Linked DNA regions of Homo sapiens: regions 1 and 3 are each linked to region 2. A link means that fine-mapping ties the variant in region 2 to the expression of a gene that starts in the linked region. Tissue or cell type: aorta. Region 2 holds a variant in brackets; each other region holds the start of a gene. All regions are shown on one strand. Distances are between the middles of the regions.

Evidence for each region. PIP is the estimated chance that this variant, and not a neighbour inherited with it, causes the effect.
Region 1: it holds the start of MKKS, and the variant in region 2 is fine-mapped to the expression of MKKS in aorta (GTEx, PIP 0.99).
Region 3: it holds the start of ANKEF1, and the variant in region 2 is fine-mapped to the expression of ANKEF1 in aorta (GTEx, PIP above 0.99).

The regions. Positions count from the first base shown.
Region 1 is chr20:10,429,866-10,437,593 of GRCh38, reverse strand. It overlaps MKKS (MKKS centrosomal shuttling protein), which reads left to right and starts at 3,372. Exons shown (of 6, transcript NM_170784.3): 1 at 3,372-3,486. SLX4IP (SLX4 interacting protein) reads right to left here and starts at 2,289. Exons shown (of 8, transcript NM_001009608.3): 1 at 2,141-2,289. LOC128706665 reads left to right here and starts at 3,372. Exons shown (of 3, transcript NM_001394148.2): 1 at 3,372-3,486. LOC128706666 reads left to right here and starts at 3,372. Exons shown (of 3, transcript NM_001394149.2): 1 at 3,372-3,486. RefSeq lists enhancers at 2,136-2,185, 2,346-2,575, 3,466-3,525, 5,476-5,977.
Region 2 is chr20:10,297,939-10,305,666 of GRCh38, reverse strand. SNAP25 (synaptosome associated protein 25) reads right to left here. Exons shown (of 8, transcript NM_130811.4): 7 at 6,255-6,399. Among named protein-coding and RNA genes, the nearest start is that of SNAP25-AS1, 82 kb to the right of the region's middle. RefSeq lists an enhancer at 4,254-5,171. The variant C/T (reference allele first, on the strand shown) is at 4,945.
Region 3 is chr20:10,031,102-10,038,829 of GRCh38, reverse strand. It overlaps ANKEF1 (ankyrin repeat and EF-hand domain containing 1), which reads right to left and starts at 3,843. Exons shown (of 11, transcript NM_022096.6): 1 at 3,497-3,843; 2 at 3,188-3,251; 3 at 183-572. The coding sequence starts at 528. The region is part of intron 3 of SNAP25-AS1 (SNAP25 antisense RNA 1); the gene reads left to right. RefSeq lists a silencer at 3,503-4,052.

The DNA of each region.
Region 1 (7,728 bases), 130 kb before region 2:
AAGTTGACCAGTTACTGGGAAGCTGGTTCCTTACATTCTTAATCCAGATCTTTTCATGGTTTTCAAAATCCCGATTATTTTAAGTAACACCATAAGGGAGAGAAAATCTAACATAGCAACATAAAACGTAAAAGTTGTTTCTGTTTTCTCATACTCCTTACTGGCTCTTTAATTTCATCCAGAGGGTCTCAATCTCTGCAGATACAGGGCTGGAGTCTGTTTTTAAAGCTCCCAGGTGATTGTTACGTGCAGCCAAGGCTGAGAACTCTTGATTTAGTCTTCTCATTAAAGAAAGACAGAAGGCAGCTGGGTGCAGTCGCTCATGCCTGCTTTCCTGCACTTTGACAGACCAAGGCAGAAGGATCGCTTGAGCCCAAGAGTTGGAGGTTACAGTGAGCTATGATCCCACCACTGCACTTCAGCCTGGGCAACAGGGTTATACCCTGTCTCAAAAAATAAAAATAAAAGAAGTAAAATAAAATGGGAAGACAGAAGAAAGCAAGGTGCCACAAAAAGCTTTGGTAAACCAAGGCCCAAGGTTTTCCAAGTCAGTATTGAACTGCTGTCCACATGCAAACTTTTGAGTTCAACTTTTAACAAATTAAAAGTACAAATATGCATACAAGATATGAGAAAGCAAGAAGCACAGTAAACAACTTTTAAAAAAAAAACGCAAACCAGTGGTAAATTGGATGCTAAGACTTACAGAGAAAACCCTACATTTCAGATGTTATAACAGAAATTACATATAAGTATATTGGGATGACAAAATCTCTTTTCAACTTTTTGGAAAGCTAAATTGACGCCCTAACATCAAGTCAATGAACTAAAAGCACAGAAAAAAACCTGTCAAATATCCATTGCATTTAGAACATGCAATAAATTGATAATACACTGTGAATCTAGTTAAGAAGCACGGGTTGAACAAAGAATGGGCCAGGCCGGGCGTGATGTCTCAGGCCTGTGATCCCAGGACTTTGGAGGCCAAGGCGGGTGGATCACCTGAGGTCAGGAGTTCGAGAACAACCCGGCCAACATGGCGAACCCTGTCTCTACTAAAAATACAAAAATTAGCCGGGGGTGGTGGCGCGCGCCTGTAATCCCAGCTACTGGGAACGCTGAGGCAGGAGAATTGCTTGAACCCGGGGGGCGGAGATGGCAGTGAGCCAAGATCGCGCCACTGCACTCCAACCTGGGCAACAGAGCGAGACTCCATCTAAAAAAAAAAAGAAAGAAAGAAAGGGCTGTATCTTTAGCCCATGCCCTGAATCAATGTTCCTTGAACTTTAAGGTACACTTCTTGAGGAAGATTCTGATTCAGCAGCTCTGGGGTGAGAGTCATGAAGTGTAATTCTAACAAGCTCCCAGGGATGCTGATGCTGGTGGTAGGTGAAATGAACTTGGAGCAACAAGGCCCTAAGTAACTGGAATATTAGTTTTAACGCTAGCCAACTGGCTTACAAATATCGTTATGTCTAGGATCCAAGAAGTAAGTGTCAATACCATTAATTCCTACACCCGGCCAAAAAAATTAAAAACTAAAAATAAAAAAAAATAGTTCAGGGGAAGGAGAAAGCAAATACTTGTTTATACAGTCTAGCAGTGCTAAGAACCATAAAATACTGTTATTTGTCTCAACCTAGTAGATGTCAAGGTGATAAAATGTAGGCTCCATGAGTTAATGGATTTTTTTTAGCTAACTCCTGAATCCTTATGGCCTAGCACAAATTAGGTACTCAAGAAATGCAATGAATAAATGAATGAATGGGAAGTATATACAAACGCAATCTGTATTTACCTCACATCTCCAAAAATGTCTGGGAAGGGGGAGGTATTTGTACTGCTGGATGCAGGTAGCCATGATTTGATACAAATACCTGGCCCATCTACTGCATTCCCTTTGTGCAAAGACAGTTAACTTTCCTGAATAATATCTCCACCGTAATGCCCATGCTCATGGCATCCTGATGTTTAGCAACTTTTTGGCTTTTTGAAAACAATGAAGAAAGGTGGAAGTACAGGGAGAAGGATTCGGAAAAGTCTCAAAAAATCAAAGCCAAAAACCAGGAGGGAGGAGATGGGCAAACAGTTCAGTTCACTTGAAGGAACATCTGAGGTTGTCAGAGGTCCATGTGCTTACCTATGATGGTGGCGGGGTTTGGGCTCGGGCTTTATATGTTTTGTTACTGTCCAGGGTCACTGGCGGAGTAGTACCTGGCTGTGGAAACTCGGACTACACAGGTAGCCGGAACTGCAGCCAACCTTCAGAAGCTTAAGGGAAGCACTTTCGCGCTTACTTCCTCCTTCCCAGGGTCTCCGCGCGCGTTTGGGAACTCAGCCGCCGCCCAAACACAAAATGATCTGGGCAGCTTCGCTGCAGGATTGAGGCCACAGCCAGGATTTAAGATGGCAGCGAAACACTTCGATGGCCCGTGGAATCTGCCCAAAAGAAAAATGGCCTCTGTTCAGAATATCGCGGCTTTCAAAGTGGGCCCAAAACAAAAATGGCGCCGGACGCAGGCTATTTTTAAAGGCTGGGACCCCAATGACTCTCATTAGCAAATAACGTATCATGGTAACTCACGGTGCTAGGCAGTTGAACTGACCGAGAGAAAAAAAAACGCTTTTCTGTGGTGTGTTTTCTTAACATTGGAAAATGACTAGCTCAAGAATGGAACATATATTCGGTGCGAAAGATTGTGAGAAAGGAAAGGTAGCTTTCACAGTGCCGGATAAATTTTAATAAAAATAGCCATGTTTGAACATAACTTCCTATATGTTTTTTAATGTTAAAAGAGAATAAAAGTTTTGTCCTGGAACCCAGAAGCAGGATGGGGAAATGCCGGGTGAATTATCTAATCTGTGAAGAGTACGAGCTGCGAAACTCCGCACTTCCCTGTAAGCCCTCAGGAAGGACTGAGGGCGGATGCTTTAGTAGAAGGCAACTAGCTCTCACGGCGCATGTCCGTTTTCCAAACCCGATCCCGGGAGTTACGGGAGAGTAAAAATCCTGATTTTCCAGACAACCGCACAGAGAGGCGGGATACTGGCGCTGAGCGACAAATCCAAGCGCTTTGTAATTGGTCATGTCAGGACAGAGAGCAGAGCGCAGTGGACTATTTCTTTCTTTCATTCAATAAATCATTGTCAAGCGCTCACCAAAAGGCAGAAGCTGTGCCATTTTGATATGTTATTTAAATTTTATGCGTTCTTTTAAAATTTCAGTTTCAACAATTTGCTGGAATATACGCTGAATAAACTTCGCTCCCCGTTTTTTCCGGTGACGGCCGCTGTTGGCTGGAGCTTCACGGAAAACCCGGAGAAGCGGAGTGGGGGCGGCCCGGCGTCGACCGCAGAGCTGCGCGTGCTCCGTGCCCTCGCGCGACGCGAAGGTTGTCGGGATCCGCGGCAGCAGCGGCTGCTTGAGATCTGTTTCTGGGGCCTCTGGCGGTGGCGGCCTGGGGCGGCGCGACGGCTGGTGCGCAGGTGAGAGCGCTGGGACTCTAGGTGGAAAAGCCCGCTTTGTGTCCGGCCGAAGAGAGGGGAAGGGGCTTGTAGGCGCCTCCCTCTCCACCCCCAAAGGTCACCGGTGTCCTCACTGAAGGATATTTGAGGGCGGGGACAAGGAGGAGGCTGGCTCTCTGTAGGAGGCGAAAGACCGACCTCTGAAATAGCTGCCGATGGTAAATGTTGCGGTCGGCACGGATGCGGGCGGCGAGGAGGTCTTCCCGCCGGTGGGGAGAGCTGGAGGAGTGGCGCCTCACCACGCTCCCACCTGCGCTGCCGCCTTCTACGCCGAACCTGTGACTCCCCGTCCCCTCCCTCGCTGGGAGGGGCCCCGTGTGCCCCTGACTGTCTGGAGGGTGCACGGTGTACCCCAGGCTGTCGGGAGGTGGGGGCCGCCCTCCGACGGCGTTAGAGACGTTGTGCAGCGTGGCCCTGCCAGCTACGTGAAAGCAGCCGCGGGGCTTGCAGGGCTGTGGACCTTGTAGGGATGACCCTCTAAGGTCATGCTCGTCTTCCTCCCCGATAAGACCATACCCAAATCCTGTTGCCGTTTCAGAGACTCAATATGACGGTTTCATTCATTCATTAACATCTTCAGTTTATCCATAAACAGATATACACGTGTCTACAGCACTGCCGAGTTAGTAGATACGGCAGTGACCAAGAGGGACTTGCACGGTCCTGACTCCATGTTCTAGTGATGGGGGAGAAACAATACGCTCCCTATCCATGAGTTCCGCATGTGTGAATTCAACCAACTGCGGATAGAAAATATTTTGGGGCGGCGGGGTTTGGTGGCTCACCCCTGTAACCCCGCACTTTAGGAGCCCGAGGCGGGCGGATCACTTGAGTCAGGAGTTTGGGGCCAGCCAGGCCAACGTGGCGAAACCCGGTCTCTGCTAAAAGTACAAAAAAATGAGCCGGGCGCAGTGGCGCACGCCTGTAATCCCAGCTACTTGGGAGGTTGAGGCAGGAGAATCGCTTGAGCCCTGGAGGCGGAGGTTGCGGTGAGCGGAGATCACGCCACTGCACTCCAGGTTGGGCGACAGAGACTCTATTTAAGAAAATAAATAAATAAAAACATTCTGGGGGAAAAAAGATGGTTACATCTGTACTGAACACGTGCAGACCTTTTTTCTTGTCATTCCCTAAACACTGCAGTGTAACAACTACTTACATAGCATTTAACGTTGTATTAGGTATTATAAGTAGCCTAGAGATTATTTAAGGTACATGGAAGGAGGTGGCAAGTTGTGTACAAAACTACACGATTTTTTTTTTTTTTTTTTTTTTTTTTGACAAAGAGTCTCGCTCTGTCGCGCAGGCTGAAGCTGGATCTCTGCTCACTGTGCAACCTCCGCCTCCCGGGTTCAAGCAATTCTCCCTGCCTTAGCCTCCGGAGAAGTTTGGGATTACAGGCACCCGCCACTGCACCTGGCTAATTTTTGTATTTTTTAGTAGAGATGGTGTTTCGCCATGTTGGCCAGGCTGGTCTTGAACTCCTGACCTCAGGTGATCCACCCGCCTCGGCATCCCAAAGTGCTGGGATTACAGGCATGACCCACGGCGTCTGGCCTACTACACAATTTTTAAATCAGGGACCTGAGCATCTGGATTTGGGTATCCATCATGGGTCCTGGATGCAATCCCCCAAATACTGAGGGGTGATTGCACATTGATATTGAGCAAGATGTTTCTAGATTGTCCTAGGTTGGGTTTCCTGAGAATCAGACTCTGAGGAGATTTAGAGGCAGGACATTTACTAGAGAAGACTTTTTGGATGATTACCAAGGAAGAAAGGAAGCAGGATTGGGCAATAGAAAAAGTTAAGCTGCAGTGAAGTCTCAAGGATGTTCTCCACCAGTCCCACAGGAACTCTAGTGCTGGGTTGGCCCTTCAAAGTTGAAGAGAAGGGCCAGGCTTTTATACCCCTTGATTGATCTGTCGTTAGATGTCTGTTTCCCTGGAAAGGGCCTAACTTCAACTCTCTTCAGCCAAGTCAATCATGGACGGAGGCTGGCAGCCGAGGTCTGTCTCAGCTCTTCCAGGAGCTGGGGAAATAAGCCTTTCATTCCTTAGGGGGGTCAGGGTGGCACATCACAGCATTCATCACAAAGGTAGGGCTTTGAAGGAATCACGTGCTAGAGAATAATGGGGAGGGAGAGGGAAAACACTTTAGGTTGAGTGCTGAGAGAAAGGCTCTCTGAGTAGGTGACATCTGAACTAAGAGCTGAAGCAGAAGAATAAGCCATCCTCTGTGGACCAAAGGGGACAAGATTCTCTACTTTTCTGCTACGCACTAGGAATATAGCAGAGAAGACAAGTGGCTGCTACCTTCTGTTATCGTGGGTGGCAGTGACTAGTTTTTCTAGATCTTGACTCCCTGCCGTAACTAAAGATGGAGTAAGTAAAAATGGATTGAGACTAATTCAGAGGAGGATAGAGGAAAAAATGAGAACTATGATTTTGAAAAATGAGTCAACTTGGTAAAGACTTTATGCAGTTTTTTGTGCGGGTTTGGTTTGGTTTGGTTTGGTTTGGTTTGGTTTGGTTTGGTTTTTTGACCCTATACAGCATTGAGTTATGTTTTATTAAGATTGTCCCATTATCTTCTCAAACCTGTATTCTCCTTGAGGACAAGAATCATGCCTTACTCTTCTTGGTAGTTCCCCCCTGAGGCTAGTAGTCTTGCTAGCACCTAATAGACACTAAGTGAGCATTTGGATAGAATTAATCTTGTACATATTTGAAGTGAAAATTGCTAATCCCTAAATATTGTGAATGTGGGATACATGACTGTGTTTGGATTTGTCTTTACAGTATTTCCTCACCTTATAAGTTGGAACCCAATTTTAGTCAAAATATTCGATGATAATATATAATTGCTTTGATCAAGCAGGAACCTCCAGGGGTGCCTATTTTTATATATGATTCGTATAAGATAATATACTCCCAATAAAAGTAATGGCTGCCGTGTATTGAGCACTTCCCACATGCTAGGCACTGTACTAAGCTATGAATGTATATAGTTCTCTTCATAATGTGGCCCCCTATTTCAGATCATGACATTGAGGCAGGAGAGAAGTAATTTGTCCAAGACCATAACTAATTTGTGGTGGAGGTTAGACTTTGATTCTCGCCATTACTCAATGCTTTTGCTCTTATGTAAAACGTTGTTTCAGACCAACAGCGTGTCTGAAAATGTCGACCAAGTTTCAGTCATTGTAGGATTCTCACATTTGATCACTTGGCTGCTCTATTAACTGTTATTAGAGAAACATACATGAAATTTTTCACCGTCTTTGCTTCTTTGCTCTGTATCAGTTTTCTGACTTCCTTCACAGCTTTCCTGGCTCTCACTTTAGAAGCTTGACAGTTATCTGTCCTATAATATCCTAGAATCTAATTACCAGATTCACTACCCTAGTCAAACCCCAAAGACCTCTGAACCTCTCTGTTGAGACTGGGTATTTTTATTCTTAGCTAACTAACTGAAACTGCCCAGAGAAGTGGGCCTTCCTTTATGGGGACCACTTCCCTTAGTTTGGGCATTAATTCTAATCCTCTCCAGTTCTTGCTATACTACAGGTTAATTCCAGTAATGTTTTTTTTCTTTTTGACATAATCAAAATAATAATAGCTAACAATTACTGAGCCCAGACAAAGTGCCAAGTATTGTGATAACTGCACAGCAAGCTTATGATATGGATGTTATTATTCACATTGTACACACAATGGAACTGAAGCACAATGAGATTAAGTGACTAATCCAAGGCCACACAGCCAGTTGTAAAGTGGTAAGTGAAGATTCAAAGCCAGGTGGTATGAGTCCACAGCTCATCCCTTAATCACTACATGACAATGCATTCTTACAAAAATGATTTAAAGTGCTTGACTTTCTGAAAACTGGTAGGCAGGATCTAGATCCTAGTGGATTTTTCTTTCTGCTGTACTAAGAAATTTAGATTTCACTCTAGTCAAAAATGTCACTAAAGGCTTTTAAGCAAAGCAGGAATACAACCAGATTTGTTTTTGTTTTTGTTTTTTTGTTTTTTGTTTTGCAAGATGGCTATATTAAAAGTGTAGAGAATGGATTAGTGGATGTAGACTAGAACAGTGGGTCTCAAACTTTAGCTTCAGAATTACCTAAAGAATTAATTAAAACACAGATTACTGGACCCCACCCTAGAGTTTCTGACTCAGTAGGTCAGGAGGGGCAGC
Region 2 (7,728 bases):
CTTCTCCAACCTGGATGATAAAAAATATTGCTAATGAGCATGAGCATGTACAGTGGACCCTTGGACATCATGGGTTTGAATGGTGTGGATCCACTTTTGTGTGAATTTCTTTCTTCCTTTTTTTTGAGACAGGGTCTTGCTCTGATGCCCAGGCTGGGGAACAGCGGTGTGATCATAGCTCATTGCACCCTTGACTGCCTGGGCTCAACTGAGCCTCCCATCTCAGCCTCCTAAATAGCTAAGACCACAGGTGCATGCCACCATGCCTGGCTAATTTTTCTATTTTTTGTATAGATGAGATCTCACTATGTTGCCCAGGCTGGTCTCAAACTCCTGGGCTCAAGCAGTCCTCCCTCCTCAGCCTCCCAAAATGCTGAGATTACAGGCATGTGCCATTGTACCTGGCCAGGATTTTTTTTCAATAAATACACTGGAAAATGCTTTGGAGATTTGCAACAATTAAGACAAACTTGCAGATGAATGTGTTACTTAGAAATATTGAGAAAATTTAGAAAAAATTAGGCATGTCATGAATGGATAAAATATATGTAGATACTAGTCTAGTCTATTATTTACTATCATAAAATACATATAAATCTACTATGAAAAGTTAAAATTGATGAGACTTAAACAAATATAGACCATACATGGGCCTATTTGCAGTTGAGAGAAATGTAAAGGTGAAGTATTAAATCATAATTGTATAAAATTAACTGTAGTCCATACTGTACTACTCTAATAATTTCATAGCCACCTCCTATTATTGTGGTGAACTCAAGTGTTGTGAGCATCCGTTTAAAATGCTCTGTGATACTAATCATCCTCACCATCTCTCCAGTAAATTGCATAGTGCAGTAAAAAGTGATCTCTTGCAGTTTCACATTTAAAAAAAATCATGTTTAGTGCAATACTGTAAACCTTGAATAACATCATGCACCCATACAAAGTGCCACCAGTGATGCTAGCAGTGCTCCCAAAAAGCAAAAAAAAGTCACGACATTTCAAGAAAAAGTTGAATTGCTTAATGTGTACTGAAGATTTCAGACTGATGATTCATCTTGTAAACAAATGATATAAACTGATGGTATCAATAAATACAGCATAGTATTATAAATGTATTTTATCTTCCTTATGATTTTCTTAATAACATTTTCTTTTCTCCAGCTTACTTTATCATACGAATACAGTAAATAATACATAAAACATAGATGTTAATGGACTTTTTATGTCATTAAGGCTTCCAGTCAACAGTAGGCTACTAGTAGTTAAATTTTGGGGGAGTCAAAAAATTTTCAGCTGCATGGGGGTTGACACCCTAAATCTCCATGTTGTTCAAGGGTCAACTGTACTTTGTTCCACTCATTAAACTTTGACAACATCAAGATTAACAATATCAACTATAAAGTGTGTACTATTATTAGCTCACTTTTCCAAATGAGAAAAGCAGTCAGAAACGATCTGGGGAATTTGTCTGAAGTCTTAGTACTAATAAATGGAGAAACCAGAGTCTGAATGCTAGCAACCTGGAGTCAGAGTCCACACTATTCATCACTTACTATTCAATTTGCTGAGATCAAATGAGTTTATACACATAATGTGCTTGGAATAATGTTTTGCAAAACGAAGGGCTCATTAGTTTATCTTGCAATTATTGTTACCGTATGAGAACTTGGCTTGCTTCTGGGATGCTTAATAGTTTTTAAGTTGCATTTCTGAAGATTCATTTCTATGAGTTTAATAACTGTCTTTTCTTTAACAGATGCACATTTACTATGATTTTGTAACTGGCTGGCTTTAATCTCTTGGTTGATCTCTTTACTGCTTGGGTTATGTTTGCTGTATATGCAGCATGAAACCTAGGGCTGCTACCAGCATAAATCTTTAAATTCCAGAAAATGAATGATTCCCATCACCACTGAGAAAAATGCATCAGCAACCAGAGGTGAAGACAACGATTCTATGGAGGCTTTTCTTTTGTCCTTCCCTGACTGGTAATGCTGTCTATCCTTCTACAGCCTGGGAAGAAGAGGAGGAGGCTGCCAGGCAGTGTGGGGAAACCAAACTGTTTTTCTCTCAACCAGTATCACTCAATGATTACCAGCTTTGTACCTATTGTGGTGCTGTACTTCCCAATTTTTATTGAGCTGAGTCTTCTGTATTCAGTTCATATCGTGAATTCTCAGGACATTAGAATTATCCATGTTCAAATAGAAATTTGCAAAGTTAAAACAAACATATTTCCAGATTAATCATAACTTTGAATACCTGGCAATGGTTCTCTGTCATCTGTTTGGATAATTGACACTTGTCTTTTAAAATCAGTATTTACATAGTAAGATAGGGCATTGATTTTGATTGTTTTGAACTACAGACTCACATTTTTGACCTCAGGTTTCTCAATTGGAAAATGGATAATCTCACCAATTTTACTTGGTTCTTAAGCCCTCCCTTTCCAGCTACAAATGGTATCAGAAATAATGACACTTCAGTGCAAAGGAAAGTTACAGGATCAGAGCAATGTGAAATGTTCCTGTAGATTGAATTATTATGTTGCCAGACTAAATGCTCTGAAAAGCTCAAATGAGAAAAATAATTCATTTTAAAATGATGGCATTCCTGAGCGCAAACATTCTAGGATCTCCTGTACAAGAATGCACTGAGGGGCCTTCACCTGGGGATATTTGAAGTAGAGCATGAGGTTACTCTGTATATCCTTAAAGGATCTGGGAGGAGCTGAAACAGACTTATGTTCAATGAGCATCTGTGATTTCCACCTAACTTACTTCTGAAGCATATGAAAATTCCACCCCATGCAATATTTGACACAGAAAGTACTGCCCCTTTATTATATAAAAGAATTAGCTTCTTTTAAAAAAAAAAAAAAGTCTGGAATCTCCTTGTAGATGTCTTCCTGGTATTTGGAGAATGCCCCTATGATCACCCTACTTATATGCTGTAGGACTTTATTTATGATGGCTGTCCCATTCCAATTTTTATATTTCTATTTAGAAAATTCTAAATTTGCTGGAGTGCCCAACATATGTTACATGTTTGTCCTTGTGAGAAGGCCAGGATGACCACCAAAGAGCCAGTAAAAGTTTAGAAGGAGCTGTTCAGCCCATCTTCTGAACGCTCCGGGAATCTCTTCAACTTCAGACCATGCCAGGTGACTTTTAGAACCCAGTTCATACTTCCAGCCTGTTCTGATCCTAGGTTTGAACAGTTCTCTTACTATCCTTCAGGTGAGGCAATCAGGTCACAGAGCTGGTGAATGGCAAAACCCTGTTAGAACTCAAAGTCTTAGCTCTCAAATGCTGTGTTTTCTCACTGATAGAAGAATGTGAGGACTGCTAAAGAATCAGCCTCACTGTATTCCAACGTGTGCCTGTCATCTACCACTGACAACTTTATTTTTATTTATATATTTACTTATTAGAGATGGGATCTTGCTCTGTTGCCCAGGCTGGAGTGCGAGTGCAGTGGCACGATCATAGCTCACTGCAGCCTGGAACTCCTGGGCTCAAGGAATTCTCCTGCCTCAGCCTCTGGAGTAGCTGGGACTGCATGCCTAACTTACCACTGATAACTTTAAATCAAAGTTTGAACATTGCTAAGGTATTTCCTTAGCAACAGTTCCCATAAACCCTCTGATATAGGCTTGCTTCCAATTCAGTAAGTTTTCTGAAAAAATTATGTTTTTAACCTTAGAAGGTATATCTATATATGGTTATTTTTATATATGGTTTTTATATATATATAATAACCATATACATATAATATATATATTATATATTATATAATATATATAGTTATTTATTTATATATATAAGGTTATTATTTATATACATAAATACCCTTAAGCAGAAAACGAGATTTTTAAATAAAGTAATTTCTTGACAATCCATGAGGATGTATTGAAAATCTCATTGTTAAGGACTCCCAAAACTTCACTATTGATCCAAGTGATGAGAAAAGATCATGATTGATAGAGCTGGGTAAAGGTTGCTGTTGGGGTCATGAGAGATTATGAGAGAAACATCATAAGACTCTCCTTACCCCTACAGTGTGATTGCAATTACATCTTAGATATGCAGGAAACTTCCACATACTGTCCCGTTATCAGAAATGAGAACTTCAATGAGAAGGTGGAAATCTATTAATAATTGTGCAGTTCATGCGACATGATCATTTGGGGCAATGCTGGGTTGAAGTGGGCTCTATTTAAATCATGTGTGGATTTTGATTCTGGAAAAAAAAGGGGCTATTTAAAGTGCTGACTGGAAACTAGTTATTCAAAGGCAATTAGACCCTTCTCCCACTTAAATGATTCTGCACTCAAGGAATGATACAAATTGAAATAGTCATTATCCATCCACCTGCCTGGCTTCTGATTAAACCTTGTAGCTGCATATGTCTCTGTCTTTATAGTACACTGGGCGTAGAAGAAAAACCTTCTCCCTAAAGATGAGAACTAGAAATTCAAAGTGGCAGAATCAAGATGCCACTTGCCTTTCCAGGAACACATTTTCTTGCTTAAAGTTCAACTCTGTCAATAAGAGTTTGACCCTTCTATTAGTAAAGACGCTCCTTCTGGAACCCTAATTGGCTTTGATGCATTATCTAGCTGCATCTGCAAGTAAAGTGGGTCCATTAATAGAAAATGAATACTTCCTGTTTTTTTCAAATTGTTTTTTCTGTTGGAGGGCAGCTCAGCAATGATTTTTTAGTTCATTATTCTGGGCCGTAATGGGTTAGGTCAGCTTGTGTTGGCTCTAGTGAGTTTTGAAACTCTCATTATTATTCTAATATCTATTGATTTACACAGCTTTAAAAGCTTTATCATATGAAAGCCTTCTTAACAACGATAAGCATGCCATTACTTGCAAAAGTAAGCAAAGCACAAGTATTTTGCCAACCAACACTAAAGTTTGCGTAGTTTTCATA[C/T]TGATCAGGCAAAATATGCAATCAGATATTTTTAACATGGAGTATGTACAACACAACAGGACAAAGTGTTCCCTTTATGCCTACTTACTCCTTTTTCAAGTCATTGGAGGTTGCTTGCATACCAAGAAACTACTATTTAGATTTATGATTCTAAAAATCTTAAAAGTATCCTTCTCTGCTCACCAAAATGGAATGAATTATTATAAGAAAATTTAGGATATCAGACAAAGAACTTCAACGTCTCCCAGGGAATAAACACACAACATAAGTTACCCACATTGAGTAGATTATAGATGTACAATTATCGTTAAATCTATAATGTCTCTTTTTCTCCTTTTTAGCATTTGGACATAAGAGTTTGTAATCAATATTCAAGACCCTACTGATTGAGGAAAGGGCATGAAACATGGAAATATAAATTATGTCGGAGTTCTGTGTTGTAGAATATCAGGTTTTGGTGCCCTAGGTCTCTTTATAGGAACGTTCCAGTGTTTCTTTCCAATCTCTTCTAATTTTAAGCCCCCAAACCCACCCCTTCCCAGTCTACTCCCTCCAGTCTTTCTTATGGCCCACGTTGACATGGTGGATCTTAGAGCCAAGTCTGGTGTCCTTGTGTAAACTCAATTTCATCATATAAAATTCCCTGTTTTTAGAACTGGGGATGTGAACTGTTAAACTGGAAATGGAACCTGGATATTTTTGAATTCTCATTAAAGCTTTGGCATTTATAAAAGCAAAGCTCATAATCATGTCCTGGCTATACTGACTATTCTTTCTCCCATTTTCTGATTCTATCCCTTCACCACCTCCACTTGACAAACTATTAATACTAACCATCCTTCAAGATTCAATTCAAAGTCAACTTATTCTGAGATTTTCCCGAACTTTGCCTCTTGAGATCTTTCCTTATCTAACCTTGTTTAGCATTTTATCTGTGGATCTCTTAGTGAATTATATTTTGAGTGATAGAAAATTCATCTGGAGGCTCGTAGCCTCCCATAGGCCGTGAATTTCTTGGCAGTAGGGGTGGTGTCTTTCTCATGTGTACATGGCCCACAGTGCCTAGCACAATGCCTGGCTGACAGGAGCCTTTGAGAATATTTGCTGGATTAAATTTGACCCTCTTATTTTCACTCCAATTCTGTTGCTGAGTCCTATATTTTTCTCTTGGAAAATGAAGAACATTTCCAGCTATCAGTGCGCCTGAATCCAAGGTCGTGTTTTGAGGATCTTGTTATGCCCTTCACACTTCCTGTTGGTCATTTCAGAAGTGACTCGCAGTAGGGACTTGCTGACTGCCACGTGCTCACCTTCTCCATGATCCTGTCGATCTGGCGATTCTGTGTATCGATCTCATTGCCCATATCCAGGGCCATGTGACGGAGGTTCCCGATGATGCCGCTCACCTGCTCTAGGTTTTCATCCATTTCATTTTCTCGGGCATCATTTGTTACCCTGGGATCCAAAGAGCAAGTTTTAGAAGACAGAGGGTGGAAAACATATTGAATACCAAGGACCCAAAGCATAGTGGAAATCTGTCGTCCTCTGGGCATCAACTTTATCTATCTTTAATCTCCATCCAGTACAAAAACACATTTTAGCTTTCATACATTTAAAAAAAATGTTTAAAATTGCTTTTTGAACCCTTGAATTTCTATTCTTAAAGAAGGTATATTAAATAGATTAATTTATCTACTTTCTCACTCCTTCCATTATGTTGTTTCCCCTTCATATGTTTATTTCAATTTTTATTGTTTAAGGATGAAAACATTTTCTTTGAAAGGACTTTAGGTCAGAGCACGAAGATGGAATTAGAAACGATATTCTTCTTTCTAAGAATATTCTTAATATTTCTAAGACTCAAATTAAGTCTCAAAATTTCTAAGACTCAAATTAAGAATACAATAAAAAGCTTATTGTGCTAAGTCAGAGTCTCTGTGCTCATCTCTTTTCACACTTGGGATTGACACCAATGGGAAGAGTAATGATAATTACAGTTTGCCCCTTAACCCTGCTTGCTCCCAGGAACTCCAAGGAGAGCTACTTGTTCAAGATGATTTTTATTTACTCATATGTTAATAACATGGGTTTTTTAGTGGCATGGTGCATAGGTGATTTCAGAGTCAAAAACTGTGAAACTGTGACAAAAGAGTATTGTTTCAGGTTGAGTGGAATGGGAATGGGAGGAAGGAGCTGGCTCACAAAACACATTACATTTTTTCACAGTCCAACTTGAAAGTTAAGGAGGTACTTATTTCAGAATTTCCCTAGTATATATGGTATTGAGCTAAAAAATATTCAGAAGGGTTAAAATCCTTCCCCCATGGTAACTCCCAATGCAGACTGGCTCATTATGGTTTCAAAAGCAGCCCAGGGCAGAGAAAATTAAAAAACTAAAGGAGAACTTTCTGGCTTTTTCCTGTAGGGAAGAAGTTTATTTAAATGATCATCAATAGCTAAGAGATACTTCTAGTTCAATGGTGCTTGGCCCTGAGTGCATATCAGAATCACCTGAGGAGCTTTAATGGGCCACAGGTGCTTGTGTCTCACTTCAAGAGATTCTGGTTCAATTGGTGTGGATTGGGCCCAAACACTGGTAGTAAAAGAAAAAAAAGTCTCCCCTGGTGATTCTAATGTACAGCCAGGCTTGAGAACCCTTGGGCTACTTTCCCTGGGAGCAAAGGGAGAGCTGAGTTCTGAATTGGCTGATGTGTGTAACTTGAGTTTTTTTTTTTTTTAAAGGAAATGCCCCTGAGTCATAATTTGAACTTTTAAAAATAGATA
Region 3 (7,728 bases), 270 kb after region 2:
AGCTATCTCATTTTCAAAGTATGAGGAGACAGTAGGTTTAGGTATAGGAGTGAGAATTTAGCCTTTCCCTTAAAACCATAAGTAATTCACTTCTAAAGTTGGAAAACAAAAAGAGTCCATGTTATTGCTTTCTGGCTACAAAATGAATTGCAATCTGCTGGAGAGGATGTCGGGATTTTTACCTTTTCCTTCATTATCAACTATAGTCATATCAGCCTTTGCCTTTGCTAATATTTCCATTGACAATTCATGGCCCAGTTCTGCAGCCCTCATTGTGGGAGTACAGCCCATTCGGTCTTGCACATCAGGGTGAGCACCAAGGTCAAGGAGAAAGCTGACCATATCAATATCATTGGAAACTGAGGCTAAGTGCAAAGCACTAAGTCCATTAATGGGTTCTGTATAATTGATTAGTTCAGGGTATCCAAGCTTGGTCAGCTTCTCTATCTGCTTCTTGTCTTTGTTCCGCACACATTGAAGAACTTTGTAGATCTGTAAGTTCTCAAGTCTCTTATCTGCTAAAGCCATGCTTGACCAGCTCCTTGAAAATGCTTTCTGGACCAAAACTAAAGCTGAAGCAACAAAAAAGAAAAATAACTCAAAGTTAATTTTATCATCTTCATTTTGATTAAATAACAATATTTTGGAACTTCCTTAAGAACAGAGATTGTTTTTTAAGAAATGTTCAGAAAGTAGGATTTATACATAAATATCAAAAATATTGAGTGGGCATAAAGTTAAAACAGTTCAAACAAATCTTCCATCATAATTAAAAATAGTTTGCCAGGTGGTTTTCTTATTATCCATTTAACCTTCCCTCCTCATCACACTTTACCATTTTACCATGAAGAAGCTGAGGTTAACTAAATTGCCATGGTAAGGGTTTGAGTTCCCACCATCTATCTACATGGTTTCACACCAGCAAAATAGAGAGATCATGCAGGTTTTAATAGTTTTAAGGTGTTATAAAAACATATAATTTTGAGGTGTTCATTATAAACAAATCTACTGGGCTCTGTAACATATCAGAGATGTGATGAGTGATTCCTATGTCATCTTAAGTGGAAAAGATGTAGTTAAATGGCTGCAAGGAAACTGCAAATCTTCATAAACAATCTCCCTGTTAAATTGTGATGGGCATTCTAGTATGTAATTTTACCTCCTTGTACGGAAAATCTTTTGGATTGAGTAGCAGGCCATGCTAGGTATGACCAGTTGTTTCTTCATTTCTTATGAGAAAAGAACTCCATTATCACATAGGGAATCCTATCCGGGTCGTTTGGATGGGGCTGTCCCTTCTGTCCCCTGCCAGAGGAAAGCGTCTGTGGCCTAGGCTTGGCCCATTTGAGGGAACCATCCCTTTCCAGGTACACTGAAGCTCAAGCATATGTGCATAAAAGACATCAACCAATCAGCAGCCCATCATCCAGAACTATGAGGGAAGACTATTCTGCTGAAGTTGTTAAGCAGTATGGTGTGGGGCTGGGGCGCAGGTAGCTCTCTTGGGTGCCACAGAGAGAGTCCATGCTTGGAGGATGGAGAGAGACTGAGATTGATGGCATTAGTTGCAACATGGATTCCATGGTGCCAGAAGCCATCTACCACTTTGTGGGTAAATACATCTTCTCCCCCGTCACCTTATTTTGGTATAAGCTAGTTAGCTAAGTTTCCAACATTTGCAATGAAAAGATTCCATCTTACTACAAAAGTTGAAACTATGCACCATTTTTCTCCATCGCAAGCCTGCTCCCTCACCTACATTCTCTACGGCAGTGAGCTCTCTCTCCTTTAAATGTGTCTCTCTAGGCACCACAACATCTCCATCGCCTGCTTCCATCCAACACCAATGCCCCCTCCTGCTCAGGCTCCTTTGCTGACTCCCCATTTCAAGAAGCCTATGTTGGGTGCCCAGGGCTAGGTCCTCAAGACTCTTTTCTGTCCTCACACACTCCCCTGGTGTCTCGCCCTATCCCATGACCCTCGACCCTCAGCCCAACTCTCACTCTGTCACCCAGGCTGGAGTGTAGTGGCACAATCTCGGCTCACTGCAACCTCCACCTCCTGGGTTCAAGCGATTCTCCTGCCTCAGCCTCCCGAGTAGCTGGGATTACAGGTGCCCACCACCACACCTGGCTAATTTTTGTATTTTTAGTAAAGACAGGGTTTCACCATGTTGGCCAGGCTGATCTTGAACTCTTGACCTCAGGTGATCCACCCGCCTCAGCCTCCCAAAGTGTTGGGACTACAGGCGTGAGCCACCGGGCCAGGCCTCCTTTGCCTTTTAATCTGTTTATAACATGCGGTGGACTAGGGAACCAACTGAGGCTGCCTCAGAGTCATCCACTTGGACTTTGCTGCACGGCTTGGTGACACTCACCTTAGCTGCTATTTATGGCTTGTTTTATTATTATCGGCCATATTCCGATTAGGTGCGGTGTCATCATACTGCATATGTATATGTGTCATCTATGGAATAGGGCAAGATGCTCCTACATAGGTAATGATTAGACTGAATCAATGCCACTTGATTTGTGAAAATAAGGATTTCCCAATCAGGGACTTCAATGTTGCCTCTGTTAGCACCCATCTCTAACGGAGAATTAATTAGCAGCTACAGTGATGAATTCAGTAGGTCCATGGGTCGGTTTCCTGTGGACTGCCTCCCTCCCAGCTAAAGCCCTGAAGTGCTGGGGAGAGGGCAGCACCCTGTATAGTGTCCTTCACAATCAACTGCTAAGACTGACCAAGAGCTCACCCCACTGCAGGAAATCACACAAGTGTAGCCCTTGGGTCCTGGGTTCCTTGTAAATTGAGCAGCATATAGGATCCTCCACATACAAGCACACCTGTACTTTTCCCCAGCATGACCCTGGGCCACCTTAGTCACATCTAACCATCTACCAAGGTAGTGGAATAGAGCAGAATGTCTTGACTTGAGGTCCATGTTCGGGGTCTGAATACTCGGAAATTACATGAAAATCTGTGGGAATCTGTGTGTGTTCAGGTCATTTAACTCTCAAAGGGGGGCTGTGCGACAAGGAAGGATCATTAGAAAGAGGAATGGAGGAAGACAAGCTTGGTACAGTGGAATGTAGGGTTTGAGGTGGGGAAATCCGTTGTGATCCTCCCTTCCCTGTATCATTATTTACACAAACTAGTTGGATATAAATATGGATATGCTACCTACCTAGTTTTTACCTCAGTTTCTGCATCTGTGAACTGGCAATAGCAATGGTGCCCACTTCATGGGACTGTGTGAAAAGGAAATGAGATATGATCCTTGTAAAACATTTAGCAAAGTCCTTCAATATAGGCTCCTTATGAATACACCAAACTTTTGCGGGTTTCAGCTCACCCACAAGTGTAAGCGATAGTTTACATGTTGGGGGTTCTCTACTGTGCTTTCCACTTTTTAGTCTCCAGAAAAATCTGGAGAAGAGAGGAGTGGAGGGGGTAGAGATGTAACGTCAAAGGAAAAGCCATGTGTCATGCTCACCTCTTAGTCTTCCGGGCGATCAGAAGCCAGGGATCTCTGGGCACCTATGTGCCTGGGCCTGCTGGGGCGACCGGGGAGGCCCCTGCTCTCGTCCTCTGACGCTCAGCGCTGGCCCAGCCGCGACCTTGGGCTCCCGGAGCCCGGCGGAGGCGCCCAGGCGTGAATGATGTCCCTTGGGTAGGGCTGGTGAGCTGGCGCGCGGGACAGCAGGGCTGGGTGTATGTGTCCATGGGCCCCGGGTCCCCGGAAGGCGAGCGCGCGGGCAGGTGAGCGCAGGGGGCGGGGTGGAAGCCGGAGGGACCGGGCTGATTGTGAGCTTCCGCCACGCAGGGCGCGGCTGCCGGGGCAACCGCAGCGTGCGCGGTGGGGCGGTGCTCGCCTCCGCCTCCGCCTCCGCCTCCGCCTCCGCCTCCGCCTCCGCCTCCGCCTCCGCCCCCGCCCCCGCCTCCGCCTCCGCCCCTCGCGCCTGGCTTCGACGCCAGGTGGCCGGCCTGGGCGGGATGGGGTAGCTGCGCTGGGTGTTCCAGGGCGGAGCGCAGAATGCTGCTGTCTTGAGGATTCCGCCCTTCTCTCATTCTCTTCTCCCACCTCCTGCCCTGGGTCAGAACGTAATTTAGTTATAAAATTAAAGCTGCATATGGCAATTAAAAAATGAAGTAAAATATACAATAAATATTTAGTTTACAAAGTACAATTAAATGAAAAATACAATAAATTACACAATAAAGCGAAAGTGAACCTACTCTCAACTGCCACAGATTCTTGCAAATCTTCCCAGAAATTTTCTTTCCATACTCTAGGATGCATATATGCTTAAAAAATATTTATACACAAATGGAAGCAAATATGGAGATCACTTTATTTCAGGGCCTACAAATGCACCATAACACCCCTCTCTCTCCCTCCACACATGCTTTTTGGCGGAAAATTCTGAAAGCTTTGGTTTGATTATGTGAATGTAAAACATATATATGTGTGTCTATATATATATGCTTTTTAATGCAGTATGTAATTGCTTCCAATTAAAAACAGTAATTCCTTACACCAGCCTACCCTATTCTACTCAGAGACTGTTTAAAAATGTTAAGAGCGAAGACATGGAATCAACCTAAGTGCTCATCAATGATAGACTGGCTAAAGATAATGCGGTACATATACACCATGGAATACTATGCAACCATATAAAGGAACAAAATTATGTCTTTTGCAGGAATATGGAGCTGGAGGCAATTATCCTTGGCAAGCTAACGCAGAAACAGAAAACCCAATACTGCATGTTCTCACTTATGAGTGAGAGCTAAGTGATGAGAACACATGGACACATAGAGGGGAACAGCACACACTGGGGCCTATTGGAGGGTAGAAGGTGGAGAGTGGGAGGAGGGAGAGGATCAAGAGAAATAACTAATGGGTACTAATCTTAATACCTGGGTGAGAAAATAATTTGTGCAACAAAACCACATGACACAAGTTTACCTATATAACAAATCTGCACATGTACCCCTGAACTTAAACGTCAAATAAAAAATAATAAAAATGTTATTAAGGACTATTTCATGCACACCAAAATATACTGTATGATATATGGAAAGTACATACCATACCATACCATAGCTAAAGAAATACCATAGCTAAAGAAAAAGAAAGCTAGGAAAAATAAAGGAAAAAGGAAAAGGAAAAAAAAGTCTGCCTCTACTGCTGTACTTATATGTATTTCTTCCCAACACTGCATCCTCCTCTTCCTGTTCCCAGAGATAATACCTGTTCTGAATTTTACATTTATCATCCCAGCCTCTTAAAAATGCATTGCTACATTGAATGCCTCCCTAAATAATGCATGTTTAATATTGCATATTTTGAGAATTTATAAAAATGTGGTAGAATGTTGTGTATTGTTTTGATGACTTTTTTCCTTTCAACGTCTTGTTTTTGAAATGTATCTTTGTTGGTATGTTTAATTGGAGTTCCTTTATCTAAACAGCTGTAGGCTATTCCATTATATTACCATTCCACACCCCTTTCAAATCAATTCCACTATTGATAGACATTTGGGATGTTTCCAGAATTTGCTACTAAAAGCAATACTACTAAGATCATGTTTATAAATGTCTTTGGACGCACACGTTCAAGAGTTTCACTAGAGTATATGTCTAGGAGTTAAATTTCTGGGTCATAGGTTATTTATAACATCAAGATAAAGACAACTTGTTTTCCCGACATATACAGCAATTTAGACTCCCATCAGCAGTGTGTATCTTAGCCAAAACTTGGTTTTGTCACACAAAAAACTTTCTGCCAATCTTGGTATCAATGCTCTTTTATAATTTACTTTACGTGACCTGATTACTAATTATTAATCTGTAAGTTTGATTCCTTAGAGATATTTGAGTGTAAATTTATTGTCAAACTGTGTCCAAAATTGGTGGGTTCTTGGTCTCACTGACTTCAAGAATGAAGCCAGGGACCCTCGCGGTGAGTGTTACAGCTCTTAATGTGGCGCATCTGGAGTTTGTTCCTTCTGATGTTCGGATGTGTTCGGAGTTTCTTCCTTCTGGTGGGTTCGTGGTCTCGCTGGCTCAGGAGTGAAGCTGCAGACCTTCACGGTGAGTGTTACAGCTCTTAAGGCGGCGCTTCTGGAGTTGTTGGTTCCTCCTGGTGGGCTCGTGGTCTCGCTGGCTTCAGGAGTGAAGCTGCAGACCTTCGCAGTGAGTGTTACAGCTCATAAAAGCAGTGTGGACCCCAAGAGTGAGCAGCAGCAAGATTTATTGCAAACAGTGAAAGAACAAACCTTCCACAGTGTGGAAGGGAACCCAAGCGGGTTGCCACTGCTGGCTCAGGCAGCCTGCTTTTATGCTCTTATCTGGCCCCACCCACATCCTGCTGATTGGTAGAGCCGAGTCCTCTGTTTTGACAGGGCGCTGATTGGTGCGTTTACAATCCCTGAGCTACACCCAAAGGTTCTCCATGTCCCCACCAGATTAGCTGGCTACAGAGTGTGGACACAAAGGTTCTCCAAAGCCCCACCAGAGTAGCTAGATACAGAGTGTGGCTTGGTGCGTTCACAAACACTAAGCTAGACACAGGGTGCTGATTGGTGTGTTTACAAACCTTGAGCTAGATACGGAGTGCCGATTGGTGTATTTACAATCCCTGAGCTAGACATAAAGGTTCTCCACGTCCCCACCAGACTCAGGAGCCCAGCTGGCTTCCCCCAGTGAATCCCGCACGAGAGCTGCAGGTGGAGCTGCCTGCCAGTCCCGCGCCGTGCGCCCGCACTCCTCAGCTCTTGGGTGGTCGATGGGACTGGGCGCCGTGGAGCAGGGGGTGGTGCTCATCGGGGAGGCTCGGGCGCACGGGAGCCCATGGAGGGGGTGGGAGCTCAGGCATGGCGGGCTGCAGGTCCCGAGCACCCCCCGCGCGAAGGCAGCTAAGGCCCGGTGAGAAATTGAGCGCAGCGCCTGTGAGCTGGCACTGCTGGGGGACGGAGTACACCCTCCGCAGCTGCTGGCCCGGGTGCTAAGCCTCTCATTGCCTGGGGCTGGAAGGGCTGGCCGGCTGCTCCGAGTGCGGGGCCCGCCAAGCCCACGCCCACCCAGAACTCCAGCTGGCCCGCAAACGCCGTGCGCAGCCCCGGTTGCCGCTCGCGCCTCTCCCTCCACACCTCCCTGCAAGCTGAGGGAGCCGGCTCCGGCCTTGGCCAGCCCAGAAAGGGGCTCCCACAGTGCAGTGGTGGGCTGAAGGGCTCCTCAAGTGCCGCCAAAGTGGGAGCCCAGGCAGAGGAGGCGCCTGGAGCCAGCGAGGGCTGTGAGGACTGCCAGCACGCTGTCACCTCTCAAAGCTACCCTATTCACTCTCAACTACTTACCACATAACTCTCAGATTATTTTAACAGAACCAGGGCACCGTTTCTTGAACTACTGTTTCTCAGTGTAGGCAAAGCCTCACATTTGAGTTTTTTTTGACATAATGGAGCCTAGAAGTCACTCAGGTTCCTTGGGTCTCAGTTGTAAAATCAGAATAGTATGAACTGCCCTCACAAGCCGTAAAAGAAGTATGCATAACAATGACATAAGCTCCATCTTGGCTCTGTGGTTGATTCTTGGGGAATACTTCTGTGGATAAACAGTTCCAACTATGTATTATAGGTCATCAATAGATCTTTCCAATGATAATCTTCCCCATGTTTGGAGACAAAGTTGGTATCAGTAACAACCTTGTTTCTGTTCTGGAGA